Homo sapiens: one gene and its partner. The protein of the gene in region 2 interacts with the protein of the main gene of each other region in a biochemical or structural test. Each region holds a gene or a part of one and is shown on either strand. Other genes may lie near its edges.

Evidence for each region.
Region 1: the proteins of CALU (region 2) and APCS form a complex in vitro, tested with the Homo sapiens proteins (one study listed by BioGRID).

The regions. Positions count from the first base shown.
Region 1 is NC_000001.11:159,582,658-159,589,888, reverse strand, and holds APCS (serum amyloid P-component precursor), read right to left. Parts: upstream 2,064-7,231; 5' UTR 1,968-2,063; coding exon 1,904-1,967; intron 1,789-1,903; coding exon 1,181-1,788; 3' UTR 1,024-1,180; downstream 1-1,023. UniProt on the Homo sapiens protein: Can interact with DNA and histones and may scavenge nuclear material released from damaged circulating cells. May also function as a calcium-dependent lectin.
Region 2 is NC_000007.14:128,733,898-128,742,800, reverse strand, and holds the start of CALU (calumenin isoform a precursor), read right to left. Parts: upstream 3,443-8,903; 5' UTR 3,369-3,442; intron 1-3,368. UniProt on the Homo sapiens protein: Involved in regulation of vitamin K-dependent carboxylation of multiple N-terminal glutamate residues. Seems to inhibit gamma-carboxylase GGCX. Binds 7 calcium ions with a low affinity.

The DNA of each region.
Region 1 (7,231 bases), on a different chromosome or scaffold from region 2:
GGTTACCATCCTGAAGCTTCTGGATGCTATCTTTCTGATTCCACTGACTACATGCTCTACTTATTATCAGTGAGAAAAGCCTGTCTTATTTCCCATATATGTAGCTCAAACTCCCTCTGGGATCCTTGCTTCTCTGGGAATGCAACTTATATCTGTTGACGATGTGCCAGGCACTGTGTTCCATGCTTTTCATAACCATAAAAATAACTACTAGTAATAGCATCTGACAATTATTTTTCAGTGTGATAGTTAGGATGTGGCTTGCTCTGCTAAGAGTTGTATCTGAAATGTACATGGAAAGTCCATTTCAGAGAGTATTCTGTGTATACTCTCTGTGTACATTTCAGAGAGAGTAACTGGGACCAGGTTATAGAGGGCAATGTCATATTTAGAGGTTTAAATCATGTCCTGTAAGAAGTGTGAATCCATGGAAGAATTTTAGACAGCATATTCATGTGAGCAATATTCAGAGTATAATATTTTTTGATGACATCAAGAGAACATTATGAAAATCAAGCATTGTACAGTCCTACTGAGGTTTTTGAGACATAAAGTTATGTTTGTCTTCATACAAAATGATCCCAGTCTCATACTTTTTTGGTTTTCATTCTGACTTCTTCTAGTTTTATTCTTCCTGTCTTATTACTTGCTGTCAGGTTCTCAACTATTGCTTACTTATATCATTATAGTTGTCTACCTGATGCAACCTCAGACCCCTTTTTGATCGATTTGTAGCTGGAAAAACAAATAGGAGAATTGTGATTACAATTCCACACATATTTTGAATCGTCATTAAAATGATTGTTAGTAGCTTTTAAGTATTGCCACTGTTGTGCTCATTGAGTGCTCTGGCTTTGTGATATATCTTTCTAGTTACTTACAGGTTTTCCTCCCCGTACTTGGCAATTGGAGTTTTCAGGATAATGAAACACCAATTACCAATGAAACACCAATTAGTAGATAGATAAGTAGTAGACATAAGATAAAGATATGGGACTATGACAAGCACTAAACAAATGCAGGTAGCATAATACAATATATATTTTTTTAATTAGGCAGACATACAGATAGGAAATTCAAAGAAGAAAGAGCTGCAGATGTAAGATCTAGTATCCAGTTGCTTTGACCAGATCTCTTAGACAGTCATTTCATTTTCAAGTGCTCTCGTTGAGTCAAGACCTCAGACCCACACCAAGGGTTTGATGATGACATATCCTCTGATTTCATAGTTCAGAGCCTGCCAGTCCAGGATATTGGCAGGGAGAGGGGTACCCTGATAGGCAGACAGGATATTTTCTGGGGGCAGCACAGAGTCCCACATGTACAAATCCCCAATCTCTCCCACAAAGGACTGGCTCCTATCAAACTTGCCCCCATAGGAATCCTGTTCCTGCCCCAGGACAATCTTGGGCTGAGCTTCTACAAAGTAACCCTGTCGCAGACCCTTTTTCACCAAAGGTGTCCCATTGATCCAAAATTCAGCAATACCTGATGAGGACTCCCAGCTCACACAGATGTGCACTGGAGCCGGGAACTTTTCGATAACTTTGGATGTAACTTTGTGTCTTCCAATGTATAGACTATACTCTCCAACTCTTTCTTTATAAACTAGTAGCTCATTATCCCTGCCTTGGGTATTGTAGGAGAAGAGGCTGTAGGCACGAGAGAGATCACTATAGGCTCGAAAACACAAGGTAAAGTTCTGTAGAGGCTTCTCCAGCGGTGTGATCAAGTTTACATGATCAGTAACAGATTCTCTAGGAAATACAAACACCTTCCCACTGAGGTCTGCGGGATAAAGAAAGAAAGATAATGACCTTCAGTATAAATGCAGGGAAAAGATATCTCAGCTTCAACCTATTTTCTCACTTTATGATTCTTGACCATTCCTTCACCTCCTTACCTGTGTGAGCAAAGGCTTCCAGGAGGCTGGTGAGGACAGAGATCCAAAGCAGCGGCTTGTTCATATTCCTGGCCTAGGGCTGTTATAGCAGAAGCAGTGACCAGGATGAGGGTAGCAGACAACACAGTGGCTGTCCCCCTAGCGTCTGATATTCATGCCCTTAGACTTCAGGTTATTCAGGGTTTATATGCACCTTGGGTGAGGATGGGGGAGGAAGAGCACCAATAATATGTGAGTGATTTTCCAGGTCTGCCTCCTGGCGCTTACGGTGAAGGAGTGGTGAGCCCTGAGCTGGAAAATCAATGGGAGTTATTTATTAGAGACAAGTGATGGCTAGAGCTCCAACTCCTGTGACCCAGATTTTATTGCTGGGAAGAGAGTCATTGCAGGGCAGCAGGGTTATGGATGGGATGAGGCGCTGGGCTGGCCATGTCAGCAGAGCCTCTCTCTGCTCTCTGGGCCCCCTCTCTGATGGCTCTGTGCTCTGCCAGAAGCTCCTGAGCCACACAGAGTGTATCGCTGAGCTCAGCCCTCTTGTGGGCTATGGGAACAAGGCCTTTTCTTTCTTTTATAGTTCTCAAGTTGTCTTGTATTTGTAGGATATTCTAGGATTCTGCTTTCTGCTGAAGACCCTAAAAAGTGCCTTCAACTTTGACTAATTCAACATCAAGTAATACATCCAGGCAAAGCTAAGGGGAAAGAGGGACTTGGAGAATAAACTTTCTGTCCCCATGAAGCTTAGTATTTTTCTGCTACTTCTACTCAGTGCTTTTTTTTCGTTTGCATATCATGGTGCTTCCTTATCCTAGATCTTTCCATTTCTCATTACGACTTGTTTTCTGGTTACTTCATGCTACCTGCAGAGATGTCAGCATCTCCCCAAGTTTTTCTCTCCTCTTCTTTGAGTCCTTGGTCATTGAGTGTATATCTAATCCATCTTTGGTGATGACCCCACTAATACATTTATTCACTAGCTCTCAGTTACTACACTAGGTGCTGGGGATTCAGTGGTCACTGGCTCTCTCACAGCCCCAGAGATCTCCACCTTCATTCTTTCTATGTCTCCTTCATTCTCTCTCTGTACAGTTTATTAACCACCACTCAAACCTTCTCTGCCTCTGAGATATCAAACTGAAGTTCTTCTTTCTAGCCACATTATTTCTTTCTCTCTCATCCCTGAATTATATGGTGTCTTGTTTCTCATCCTACTGTTTAGCCTCTTGTTCACTCTCTCTTCTGTTAGCTCACCACAGACCTAATCAGCCTTTTCAATGACACAATCACTGCCACCAAGAATACACTTTCTCTATCATTGTTCAAAGTATCCTTCCTATTCTCATCCCTGGGGAGTTTCCATTCTCTACTTTTTTTCTCTAAATGGAATCCCAGGTTGTGAAGCCTTATCTGGCTTGTTGCACAGTATAGGTTAGTGATAAAGTTGGGATTATGCATCTATTGACTCCTGAATTAAATACAGACCATTTGCTTGGAAGCCAATGCCATTTGCAATCTGGCTCTAACCTGGCTATTATCTCAGAATCTAATCCTATTCTCCAGTCAAACACCTCTAATTGTTGTTCTTTATACCTTCCTGGCTTTCTTGATTTCATTACTTCTATTCAGTGCCTTCATACTGTCTTGAATTTCTCTCTTATTTTCTTTTCCTGTTTCTAGGAATTCCAGCCATTCTTCCACATTAATCTCAAGCTTATTTAGGTGATGGTTATAGTAAAAGCCCAGACTTCACTATTATGTTATTGCTGTCTATGTAATAAAACTAAACTTGTATGCCTTGAATTTATACAAAAATATAAAAAATAAAAAACAATCTGCTTCATGAAGACTTTTCTAATATCCCAACTATACATTATTTCCCCTCTTTCGTACTTCCCATAAGGTTAAGATCAAAGACTTTGGGATAGAATTCCAATGTTGCCATTTACTAGTGGCTGACTATTCTGCAAGTCACTAAACCCCTCTGAACCTTAGTTTCCTTCTCTGTGAAACAAAGATAAAACTATCTACCTCACAGTGTTTCTCTAAGGATAAATGAGATACTATGATATACATAAAGTACATGGAACAGTATCTGGATGGTTATTATTACCATCATTTTAGAGCCTTTATGGCTGTTACCACTATCTGTCTCATATTATAGATATTATTGTATTTATCTTGAATCCCTTCTAGACTGAATCTGGGTATTAGGACTTATTTATATTTAGATCATTGGTTTCATCTAACAATTTTTCTTACACATGAAAAGAAACTGTTACATATTGTGGAATCAAAGGACTCAACTTTGTGTGAGGATTTTTTTTTTTTTACAAGAAACAGTTTATTAGCAACAAAAAGTAGAATACAATTGAATAATATGATAAGGTAATACTGGAAGTAGGAGCAGGAAGGTAACATTTCTTGAGAACCCAGGGACTATGCAATTCCCTAACATTTCCAGATGTTAATTAATAAGTGCCATAAAACTCAGAGAACACAGGGCTTACCAGATGCTTCTAGTTTTCTTCATAAATAAATAAATAATCATTATCTTAACAAAAAATGGTTTGCAAATTAATATCAAAGAGAGTCTTCTCTAATGGGAGATAAGCCTAGGGAACAGGTCTTGGGGATAAGTGACACAGCCTTAGACTCATGGTGGGAGAGCTTGGAGATAACGGCTTTAGATAGCTGTTGGGGCCAAGTGCAAGGGTTTGCAGTTGAATATGAAAATGTTGTGTTATACACTGTGAAAAGGAAACCCTGGTTGGAAGGTAGGGTCTACAGTATAATTGGAAAAGGGAGAAAAAGTGGAGTCTGATTCTGTTGTCTAGTTTCCTTCCCCAGAATATGCTTCTCAGGCCTTGGAAGAGAACAGCCTGCACTTCAAGAGTTGTCAAAGAGGAAACTGAGAATTATTTTTATTGTAGAAAGGAAAAGTTCTGATGTCAGGATGTAGGAAAATGAATCCTGGGTCTTCAGAACTGGGTGCAATCCTCACAGTGAGCCAATCCTCACTGTTGCTGGATCCTCCTGGGTGCCATCCTGCCAGTGAAAGTTCAGGTCAAGGTGGCGGCTCCTGTCTGGATGGCTATGGAAGAGTTGAGGCTGGGGGAAGAAAAGATACAGTATGCTGAAGAGAAACAGGTCCACCTGTGTGCCACAAACAGAGTTGTCTTGGCTACATTAATTGGCATGCAACAAAGTTTACCCTCAGAGAGCATAGTGGAAGAAGGCATCAGCAGTAGCAGAAAGAGGATCTGACTCGGAGCTTCAAAAAAGCAGAAGTATGAGATATAACTGGAGATCACCTGAGGGATTAAAGAATAACCTAAAGATGGTTTCTGAGACCTCAGGTGTTTGTAGAAGACATTAAGTCACAGTAACCAATGGGAAAGACTGGATAGGAAGAGACTGAGTAGAACAAGATTTGTGTTCAGTAAAGAATTATTTGCTGTGTGTTCTGTCAGTTGTAAGGGAATTTGAGAGCATTTAGATGGAAAGAGGCAATGGAGGCATGCATCAAGAGTAACTGATTATCACTCTGATATGTGGTTGGATAAAACCAAAGATACACAACTTAGACTGATGGCAGGGTCTTATTGTAAGTGCAAAAAAGGACAAAGATGAGAATTAAAAATATATATATAGAATATGGAACCATATTTCTTACTGCAAATCATGTGGAAAAAAAATATGGTGCTGCCAGTACAGATAGGACAATTGAGAGGATGTTCACTTGGAGGAGGTGGAGGGTAGGTGGTAAACTTGGTTCCTCAAATGCTAAATTTGAAATGATAGTATGACTTATGTGTAAGAAAGGTCTTGGAGAATTTGTAATATGTGACGGCCACTTGGAATTAGAAATACAGGTTTCAGAGAAATCAACATATAAATGATAATGAAACAAAAATGAATTTTGTCTTTCAGTGGAAAAGAGAAGAGAGGAAAGGTCAGGGAGCCAACCACTGACTTGAGGAAACATTCACATTCATGGTGTTAGAGGCAAGATAAGAATGGCAGGTGGGGAGGGAGGTGGGAGACAAAAAATTATGTTTGGCAGAGAGGATAGCGTGTGGTGTCATGGAAACCAAGTCAGTGTAAGTGTCCAGGAAGCAGTATCCAGTGGTATTAAATGCATCAGAGAGATCTAAGTTGAATGCATGCTGGATTTAGCAATAAAAACTTCAGTCGTAACCTTTGAAAGAGTAATTTTCATAAAGTGAGCATGTCAGAAGCCAAGTTTCAGGGAATGATGGAGGGAGAAAGAGGAAGGGAGTTTGTTTCCTAAGGTTCAGTAATTCTGACAAAGAACAAAAGGAGAGAAACAAGATTCTCCACAGGAGACTTGGGATTCAATGCATATTTCCCACACAGTTTATAGATTGTCTCTTCTTGACAGAGTGGCTATCATGTCTTTGTTGCCTACCTAATAACATTTCAGCCAACAACAGAGAAAAATCAGTGTCCACCTGAGATTATGACTGACCTTTCTACCAAAGTAGCTCTTTCAGACTCTAAATGCCAGGCTCAGGCTGCTGTGAACTCCTAACTCCCCTTCACAATTCTGGCAGCTTCACAAATTTGTCAGTCACTTTCCAGGTCATGCTGATACACAAGAGTCTTTTCTTGATCTCATTTCTCTGTTCCTAATTTCAGGGTTCATTTATAAAAGAAAATCTCTGCTAAGTTTTTTTTTATCTTCTACTTTTAGGTTTAGTGAGACACCTCGACCATATTACCTCACTGAAATCTCACTTTTAAGTTCAGAATTCACCTGAAACTGCTCTCTGGAATGTCACCATATCTGTATCTTAGTCTTTATCTTTCTTGACATCCCTTCACTCTTACACTTCTTTTTGAACAACCCATCTTTATAGTTTTATAAAATATAGATTTCATTGCTGAGATTAATGTTTATTCATTTTTTAAATATAAATTTTTAAATAAAATTTACCATTCAGACTCCCACTGGCCACAACCATCTTCATGCTGTTCACAATCCCTTCATAATACCTGAGTCTTCTGGGAGGAGATGTGCAAAGAAGAAAAATGTAACAGCAGGGACTCAGTGTAACTCTGTATCTTGAGTATGTTTAAAAGTTCCCTTCTCTGTGTCTAGGAATATATTTTCCAGTCCACAGTGATAGAGAATACATGCACTGAAGATGCAGAAGCAGATTCCTTGCTCGTGCAGCTACAAGAGGTCTTGGCTAGAGCTGTCTTGCGCTACTCTTGTCATCTTGTCAACTATGCCATGTTTCTGCTCATGACAGAAACATGGCAGCACAAGAGTTTTCTTATGCTGATCTATTTTATTGTTATCCCTAA
Region 2 (8,903 bases):
TTTATAAAGAGAAAAGCCTAACTGGGTTAAGTGTGATTTTAATAATAATGAGTCTTAAGAATTGGTTTCTTCGATCCATCCAAAAATGTCCTTAAAAGCTCTAAATTCTTATCACTTCTCCCTACCCCACCCTTCAGGTAAGAACTTAGAGCTTTCAAGGAAGTTTTTGTCCTTAGTGTCCATAGTGTATCCATTGGACCAGTATTGCGAGCAATACATGGCCCAAACTTTCAATTTTGGTAAAGTGCCATTGGTCACAGAATACTTAAATTGTTTCAGGGAAATTTAGATGTTTAAATTCAACTTCACAAGAACGTTAACACTGAGTGATCCAACAGTTATTATGGTTGACCAAAGACCCATTGCTCAATGTTAACAATTGGGAGAAATGGGTGTGGTAGTAAAATTCCAGTTCTCTGAGCTGGATGGATATTCACCAGAAAAGGCATTTATTTCTCCATAACGCAGCAAAAGCAGGATCTCATTGTTTAACTGTCTACTTCAATTGGAGATTACAGGGAACAGACTGATAGCAATTTAACTATACTAAGGCCCAGGTTATGAGATCTCGAAAATGAAGTTATCTTGTTATCTATCTGACATTCTTTACTTACAAACTTTAGTACTATACCAATGGACTATCACATAAAAGTGATGGCATCCTTCATGATTTGATAAAAGTCATGATACCAACACATAATTTATTTAACGTCTCTCTAGTGATGAAGTTACATCTGTTCATCAATACATTCTAATTATATTGTGTGATGGAGGGAATACATTTATAAGACAGCTGAGATAATAGAAGTGTAAAATCTGGCTGCAGAAGAAAAACCCTGAGAATGTCTGAAACTATTACTCAAGCTTCATTAGTTCTATAACCAAAGCAACCCAGCACAAACTTTAAATTTTTCTGGCTACAGAATAAAAAACTTTTTAAAGAAAAAAGTTCTAGAAATTCTGAGAGAAAAAAGTTTCCTTTTCGTTGACAAGCCTTAATACATAATCAATTGTGAGAGAAATGCTATTTGAAATGTAGGGATAGGAGCCTTGGTTTCTAGTTGTAATTTTGCTGTGCATGTGTAACATGCGTGACACTGTTGAGAATTTGGTAGTTATTTTAGCTCAAACTTCCTTCAGTGCCAGATGTCTATAAATAAATTTAAGATCCTAGAAGACCTACCTACTATGATCACTCTAGCTGGAAGTGATCTGTTATCTTTTTCTCTTTTTGGACAAAAAGGGTATGATCCAATCTAAACTTCTATAAAACTCGTCTGAACCACTCAAAAACAATGACCATAGGTTACCTTAAGTTGTCTCCTTAGCTCCCCTTTAGAATCGACATTTCTGGAAGAATGTCTACATATCATTCTAATACAAATTATTACCCCTATATTGTCCCTAATACATTGTCTTGCACTTTTTTGATACCAATACATTTTACTGGATTAATACATCTTACTGAATTAATTGGGCGGTACTTGGCAGCAATGTGGTTCCTGCCTGCCTGTGTTCTCCAACTTCCAATTCCGTTTACTGGATCTGGCAATCAGCCAGGAACAGGCAAAAGTGTTATTTCAGCTGTCTTAACTCTAATACATAAATTACTGCATCAGCAACATCCATACTTAAGAGTTCAGAGAGTGAGAATCTAGGGCCTTGTGGCCTAGCTAGCATTTCCAGTGGCTATCCTTGGCTACACCTCTGTCCTTTCAATATCCCTGGTATACCTACGTTACAGAAAATCTGTGTTAACACCAATGTACTAGGGTGTGGTGTTATATACCTCTAGTCTCAGCTACTTGGGAGGCTGAGGCAGGAGGACTGCTTGAGCATGGGAGTTCAAGGCTCCACCTGGTCAACATACTGAGACCCTCAACTCTAAAATAAATAAATTTTAAAAAATAACACCAATATATAGATCCCAATACTGCTCTAATGGATATTAAGTGCTATCAATAAGTACTTCTTGACACATCACTGGATGAATGAAAACAAACAATGATTACATTGAGAGTGACAATGAGTTGGTTTCAAAGCTATATTGAGTACTATTCACTCAGGCATACTCAATACATTTTTGTGAGCTCATGGCTTTCCTACTTGTGATTCTCAAAAGAATCCTATTGGAACCCCCCCACCCCCCAATCACAGTAAAACCTCAGATTAGGTCTTGGCAAACTCATTTTCTTGACAAATACAACTTAGAGGTTATATCTGGTCCCTCATTTGGATTATACTATATAAATTCTTCAGTGATTACTGTCGTTTGGTATTTGGTTAATTAAATCTACTGAGTGAGGTCAAACTTGCATTTGTCTTGTGTCAAGTTCCATTCTATGGCAGACTAATTTAACAGAGATTCCAAGGTTCTCTGCCTCCAAGCTGAATAAGCTACTAGAACAAAAAACAACTAGAAGCCACCTTATTCCCAATTCATTAACGTTGACTTCATGGTCCACACCAGAAAATGAACGCAACTCAATTCTCGAAGACACTATTCTAGAATTTTATACACTTAGGAATTCAGATCACAGGCTCAAAAGTTTTAGCAGGAGACCCACGGAGCTTGGGCCTTGATGCAAAAGCAGCTTTTGAAACTGCAAGCCACTCTACGCTTAATCGCGGCAGCTATAGGGAATTAAGTTTATTTCTGACCGCAGCATGCTAAAAATCAGTAGGATATGGGGCTAGAAGCAACAAAAAACGTAACAAAAATTAATTCCCCAATAAAGCTTTAAAAACTATTTTCCGTCGCTAACTGAAGTACGTAGCCAAATATGGAAGCTCTAAACATTCAGCTTTTCTTTAAAATCATAGATATCACCTAGTGTCGTCACTCGTTCTCTCCCCCCTTGTTTCTGCACCCTTTAGGTGAGTGAACACGACCTTGGCAGATGCACCCTACTGTCGGGATGTGGCCTTGGGGCGGAGCTGGCAGATACAAGCAGGATGGTGAGTGGAGGCGGCAAGGAACTCTTACAATAACACTATCCAAATGCCCTCCGACCTTCCGGAGGCAAAAAATGACCCTCTGGTGCCAGAGACTCGGTGAGTGGCGTGACCTAGAGATGGAGGACCAGGACGCAGCAAACCAGGCACAGAACAGTACCCAACGGGACAGAGTTCCACCGGACCAGCCCCCTTCCCAGAGCGCGCGGTAAGACGGGCGGCGGCCTCCATCCCAGGCTGCACACAGAGGGTCCCGGGATCTCCAGCAGCATCAGGCCTGGGACCCGGGCGCCAGCAGAGACAGCGGCACCGAGTGAGGCAGTCCCCTGCCGCGCCAAGAACAAGACCGGGGACAGAAAGAAAGCGAATAAAGATGAGGCAGTGGTGAAGGGGCTGGGCATCACCGTACTTACCTTTCCTCGTAGCCCCCACAGCACAGGATGCCGTGGCCGCCGCTCACCCACCGGCTCAGCTCACGCGCGCAAGCACCGCCCAACCGGAAGCGGGTCCGCACCCCGCCCTCATCCGCCTCGCCGGCGGCCTCCCGACCAATCATCAGCAAACCCGCCGCTGTCGCATAGCGTCCCCGAGTAGCCATTGGTCTAACAATCGCATAGCCGGGATTGGCTGGAAAGCGCCACGTCCCCGGGACCGCGCCGAGTTGCGTGGAGCGGATTCCCGCCCAACTCTCGTCCCCGGGATTGTTGGGACGGCGGGCTCCAGCCCCAGCCCCAGCCCCAGCCCCGTACTGCGGGTGGCGTGGGCGCGGCCGTGTGGCCGCCACGTCCCCATTCACAGCTCATGACTCTGCTTCCACAGGGCTTCTTAGACTATCCTGCTAGTTATCTTCATTCCCACAAGACCACCAGGGCGGAATTAATCCGACTGAATCAGTCACCAACTTTATTGAACAATCCCAACTTTTTCTTTCCCTTCAGCGCTGCGCCCTGCGCTATCTACAGGAGGCTCTTCAGTCTTTGGCACCAGTGTATCTTTTAGCTCCATCTCCCAACACTCCCCCTCATCTTGCGCTCTGGGCACCATCATCTGTTTCCTAACAACCGGTCCTTTTTCATCTCTTAAGATTTTTGATCAAGAGGCTTCCTCTGCCAGGAATAAGTGCGTTTTCCTGATTTTCTGCCTTGCCAATAGAAGTCCCAGTTCAGATGTTAGCTCTAGAAGCCTTCCCTGACCTCACTAAGCATAATTCTTACCTTATTTACCATCATAGCTGTTTATAGCTTCAGTACACTTTGCCAAATTCTGCTATAAAATGTAGCTTATCCATCTGTCCTCTTCTAGAGTAAGCTCCTGGGTAGGTATCTGTCTATTCATCTTTATATCTGCAACTCTGAGCTTACTGCCCAGCTCAGTAATGTTAAGTGAAGGGAATGGGCCGAACCCGTTGCATGTCCCTGAAAATTTAATTTCATGTCATGAAATTAAAACAAATATCAAATAAAGGCTACTATAGCTTCAACACAAATGGAATGTAAACCTGTGGCATTCTTAGCACATAAAGCCTCTGTAGTTTAAAATCAAATTGAGACAAGTTGTAAACTCATGAAACAGTTAAGCTCATGAAAGCAAGCTAGTTACTGTCAACGTGAAAGGTTTACAACTAATCCTTCTGGCATTCAAAGGAGTGTCAGTGACCCTTGGTGGTAGTCAGGGAAGGCTTCAGAGGAAGATATGACTAAGGCTGGACTAAGGAAGTCCCAAATGGACTATTCAGCAAGAAGAGTAATAGGAATAAGGACAAGTGGAGGGCAGAGTGGGAGGTAAATTCTCAGGCCAGGTAGCAAATGAGGAAGGTTAAAAAAAGGGGTGGGGGGAAACAATGAAAGAAAAGCATGGATAGTAAGTTTGGAGAGGTAATGGAAGATCTTGTCAATTTGAGGAACCTGAACTGAAGACAGTGGGAACTGTGGGTCTTCCTGGGAAAGTTTCTAAGCTTGTGCCTACAGGGAAGCCATCTAATGGGTATTAACAATAAAACAGGCTACCTCAGGAGGCATTATTTCGAAAACAGTTTTTAAAATACCTCCTTAAGGATCACTTGAGGCCAGGAGTTTGAGACCAGCCTGGGCAAAATAACGAGACCCTTCCTCCCCCTATCTCTACAAAAAAACAAAAACTAAAAATTAGCTGGGTGTGGTGGCACACACATGTAGTTCAAGCTAGTTGCTTGAGCCCAGGAGGTTGAGGCTGCAATGAACTATGACTGTACCACTTCACTCCAGCCTGGGCAACAGAGCAAGACCCTTTCTCTTAAAAAATAAAAATAACAACTCCTTAAGGTCAGGCACTGTGTTATGTGCTGGTGAACCCAAAGTAAACAGGACATCGTCCCTGTCCTCAAGGAACTCAGCTTAATGGTGCGCCATCCATCCTGGAATTGTCCTAGTAAAGGCTAAACAGGTAGTGAGGGTGCCAGAGATAGGGCCCTCCAACCCTGAGGTTCCCTAATGGAGAAGGGCCTGGCCTAGCAAGGGAAAGGGAAATGGAAATGAACCTTTATATACAAGAGTTTTTTTGTTTGTTTGTTTTGTTTTGTTTTTCTTTTTTTTTGAGATGGAGTTTTGCTTTTGTCGCCCAGGCTGTAGTGCAATGGTGCGACCTTGGCTCACTGCACCTCCGCCTCCTAGGTTCAAGTGATTCTCCTGCCTCAGCCTCCCAAGTAACTGGGATTACAGGCATGTGCCACCACGCCTGGCTAATTTTTGTATTTTTAGTAGAGACAAGGTTTCACCATGTTGGTCAGGCCAATGTCGAACTCCTGACCTCTAGTGATCCGCCTGCCTCGGCCTCCCAAAGTGCTGGGATTACAGGCATGAGCCACGGTGCCCAGCCACAAGAGAGATTTTAAAAGTGGAAATAAGTCCTGAGCTTAGTGACCACTCGAATGAAAGAAATGAAGAAGGAGCACTCAAAAGTTAAAAGGTTTAATCATGGGAGACTAGGAGAATGAGCTAGGTGCATGGAATGAGGGAAGTCAATTGAGTTCAAGACATAGGAAGTCTATGTGATGGCGGAATAGCCAAAGAGAAAGAGCCAAGAGCCTGGAGGAGATATTTGGGAGGGGTTGTTGGCTAGCAGATGGCTGATGGAGCCATGAGAACAGATAAACTTTTTGAGGAGACGAAAGCAGATTAGGCCTCATGGGAGCCCCAGAGTTAGAAAGTAGGTGGAGGAAGGAAGAAAAGGACCTGAGGGACAACACATATTAGAAATGCCGCCAATAGCTGCACCCGAGGCCATCGAGTGAGAGCAGCACTGAAGGACTGCTTGGGGCCGGCATGATGGTGTCACCATAAAAGGCTGACATTCATCTCCAAGCTTCCCATCTCTGCTCATGGGTGCTACTGAACTTTCAATGTTTCCTGTGTGCAGACACTGTTCTAGGAACTGGGGATACAACAGTGAACAAAATTAAGTCTGTCACGGTGCTTATACTCTGGTGTGTAGAGGTAGGTGAGACAGCCCATAAACAAGACAAAAAAGCAACATACATAGAATGAGAGGTGGTGACAGGTGCTGTTACCTGAAAAACCAGGGTTTGTTCGCTTAGTGAGTAACAAACAATGCAAAACGCAGTTTGTGATCAATAGCAGTTTTATTACTTGGCATATGTAAGAAGGATACTGGGAATGTTCTCTAAAGCAGTGTCTCCCCAGGGGAAAGTGACAGGAGGGTTTTACAGGGTGATGGAGAGAGTGCAAAATCACATGTAGAGGAGGGGTCCCAGTGGCACAAACGAGTGAGTCATTATGCCAGAACATAGGTGGCATGTTATGGCAACGAAGCTATAGCTCCTCCTAGGGTGGAGACTTTGGCATGGTCAAGGGAAAAGTTGACTCAGTTCATCTATAAATTGCCAGGGTCTGCAAGGAGCTGGTTCAAACCAACAAGGTGACCACATTCCATGCAGGGTTTGGGGAAGAACAGGCTGCAGGGCAGAAGGCTGTAAAACAGGCTGATTGCTCGAGTTGATTGAATTCCTTTTATCCCTGGAGACCCTGATATGGTTTGGATCTGTGTTGTAAACCCTAGTATTGGAGGAGGGGCCTGGTGGGAGGTGAATGGATCATGGGGCGGAGTTCTCATGAATGGTTTAGCACCATCCCCGCTTGGTACTGTATAGTGAGTGATTTCTAATGAGATCTGTTCATTTAAAGTCTGTGGCACCTCCCCCGCCCCTTCCTCCTGCTCCAGCCATGCAAGACGTATCTGCTTCCCCATTGCCTTCCGCCATAATTTCCCTGAGGCCTCCCAAGAAGCAGAAGCCACTGTGCTTCCTGTACAGCTGCAGAACTCTGAGCCAATTAAATCTCTTTTCTTTGTAAATTACCCAGTCTCAGGTATTTCTTTATAGCAATACAAGAATGGACTAATACAGACCCTCTCTGTCTGCTTACATAAGGAGAAAAATAAGGCAGGAAAGGAGAACAGTGAGTGTTGGGACTATCAGGAGTGGCGTTGCCATCTCAGAAAAGGTGGCCAGGGAAGCTCATGAGAGGGTGACACGTGAGTGAACATCTGAAGGTGGTGAACATTCCAGGAAAAGGGAACACCAAGGCAAGGCCCTGAGTTGGGAGTATGTTTGAAGTGTTTGAGGAGCAACTGGAAGCCAGTGGGACTGCAGTACAGTAGCAAGGAGAGTAGAGGACATGAGGTCAGAGAGGGAGCAACAGGAATGAGGGAGGGAGAGAGGGACACCATGTAGGGCCTTTAGGCTATTGCAAGGACTTTAGCTTTCGCTATGATGAGTGAGAGGATATGAAGACTGACTATTTGCTAAATTGTTTCTTCTTCTTTCTGTGAACCCAGCTAGACTACATTTCCCAGCCTCCCTTCCAGTATGGTCATATGACTGAGCTCTGACTGAAGGAAGGAGGGTGGAGATGTTGTACACTACTTCCAGTACTGGCCATACAGACCTGCCATGTGTAATTCTCCAAGCTCATTCTCTTTCTGTGGCTAGAAGCTGTGTATTGCAGATGGCAGAGCCACAAGATGGAAGAAGCCCAGGTTCCTGTGAAACTGCCACTCAGTTTTTGAACCAGGAACACCATTTTTGGACTCTTTGTGAATGAGAAGTAGAACTTCTATTAGCTATTTTATGCCATTGATATATTAGGATTTATCTCTTTCAGAGCTAGCATTGCCTTAACTAATACAGAAGGGAAACCATTGGAAGGTTTTGAGCAGAGAAGAAACATGATCTAAGATTTTTAAAGGATCACATTAGACTGAAAGGGAGTAAGGTTAGGAACGGAGTGCATTTAGGAGGTGTTTGCAACAATCCAGGTGAGTGATGATGATGGTTTGGTCCAGGTTGGTAGCAGTGGAAGTAGTGAGAATATCAAATTCTGAATATATTTTGAAAGTAGTTTGAAAGGATTTCCTAATGGGTTGGAAATAGGGTGGAGAGAAAGAGAGGAGTTAAGGATGACTCCAGGGTTTTGAGCAAGTAGAAAAATGAGGCTTCTGCTTATTAGGATGGAGAAGACTTTAGAGAGAACAAAGTTTTGAGGGATAATTTTTTTTTTTTTCTGAGACAGAGTCTCGCTCTGTCGCCCAGGCTGTAGTACAGTGGTGTGATCTCAGCTCACTGCAACCTCTGCCTCCTGGGTTCTAGTGATTCTCCTGGCTCAGCCTCCCGAGTAGCTGGGATTACAGGCATGCACCACCACACCCAGCTAATTTGAGGGATAATATTGAGAGATTTGTTTTGGGCATGTTGAGATACATATTAGACATTCAAGTAGAGATATCGACTAGGCAGTTGGATATGTATCTCGAGTACATGGTGGTCTGGACTAAATATATAAATTTACGAGTATATTTGTGGCATGAAATCTGTGTGTTTTGATTACAAGAGACTTAAGGACTGAATCCTGGGAATTTCTGATGTTCAGATATGATTGGGGGGTGTTGATGAGAAT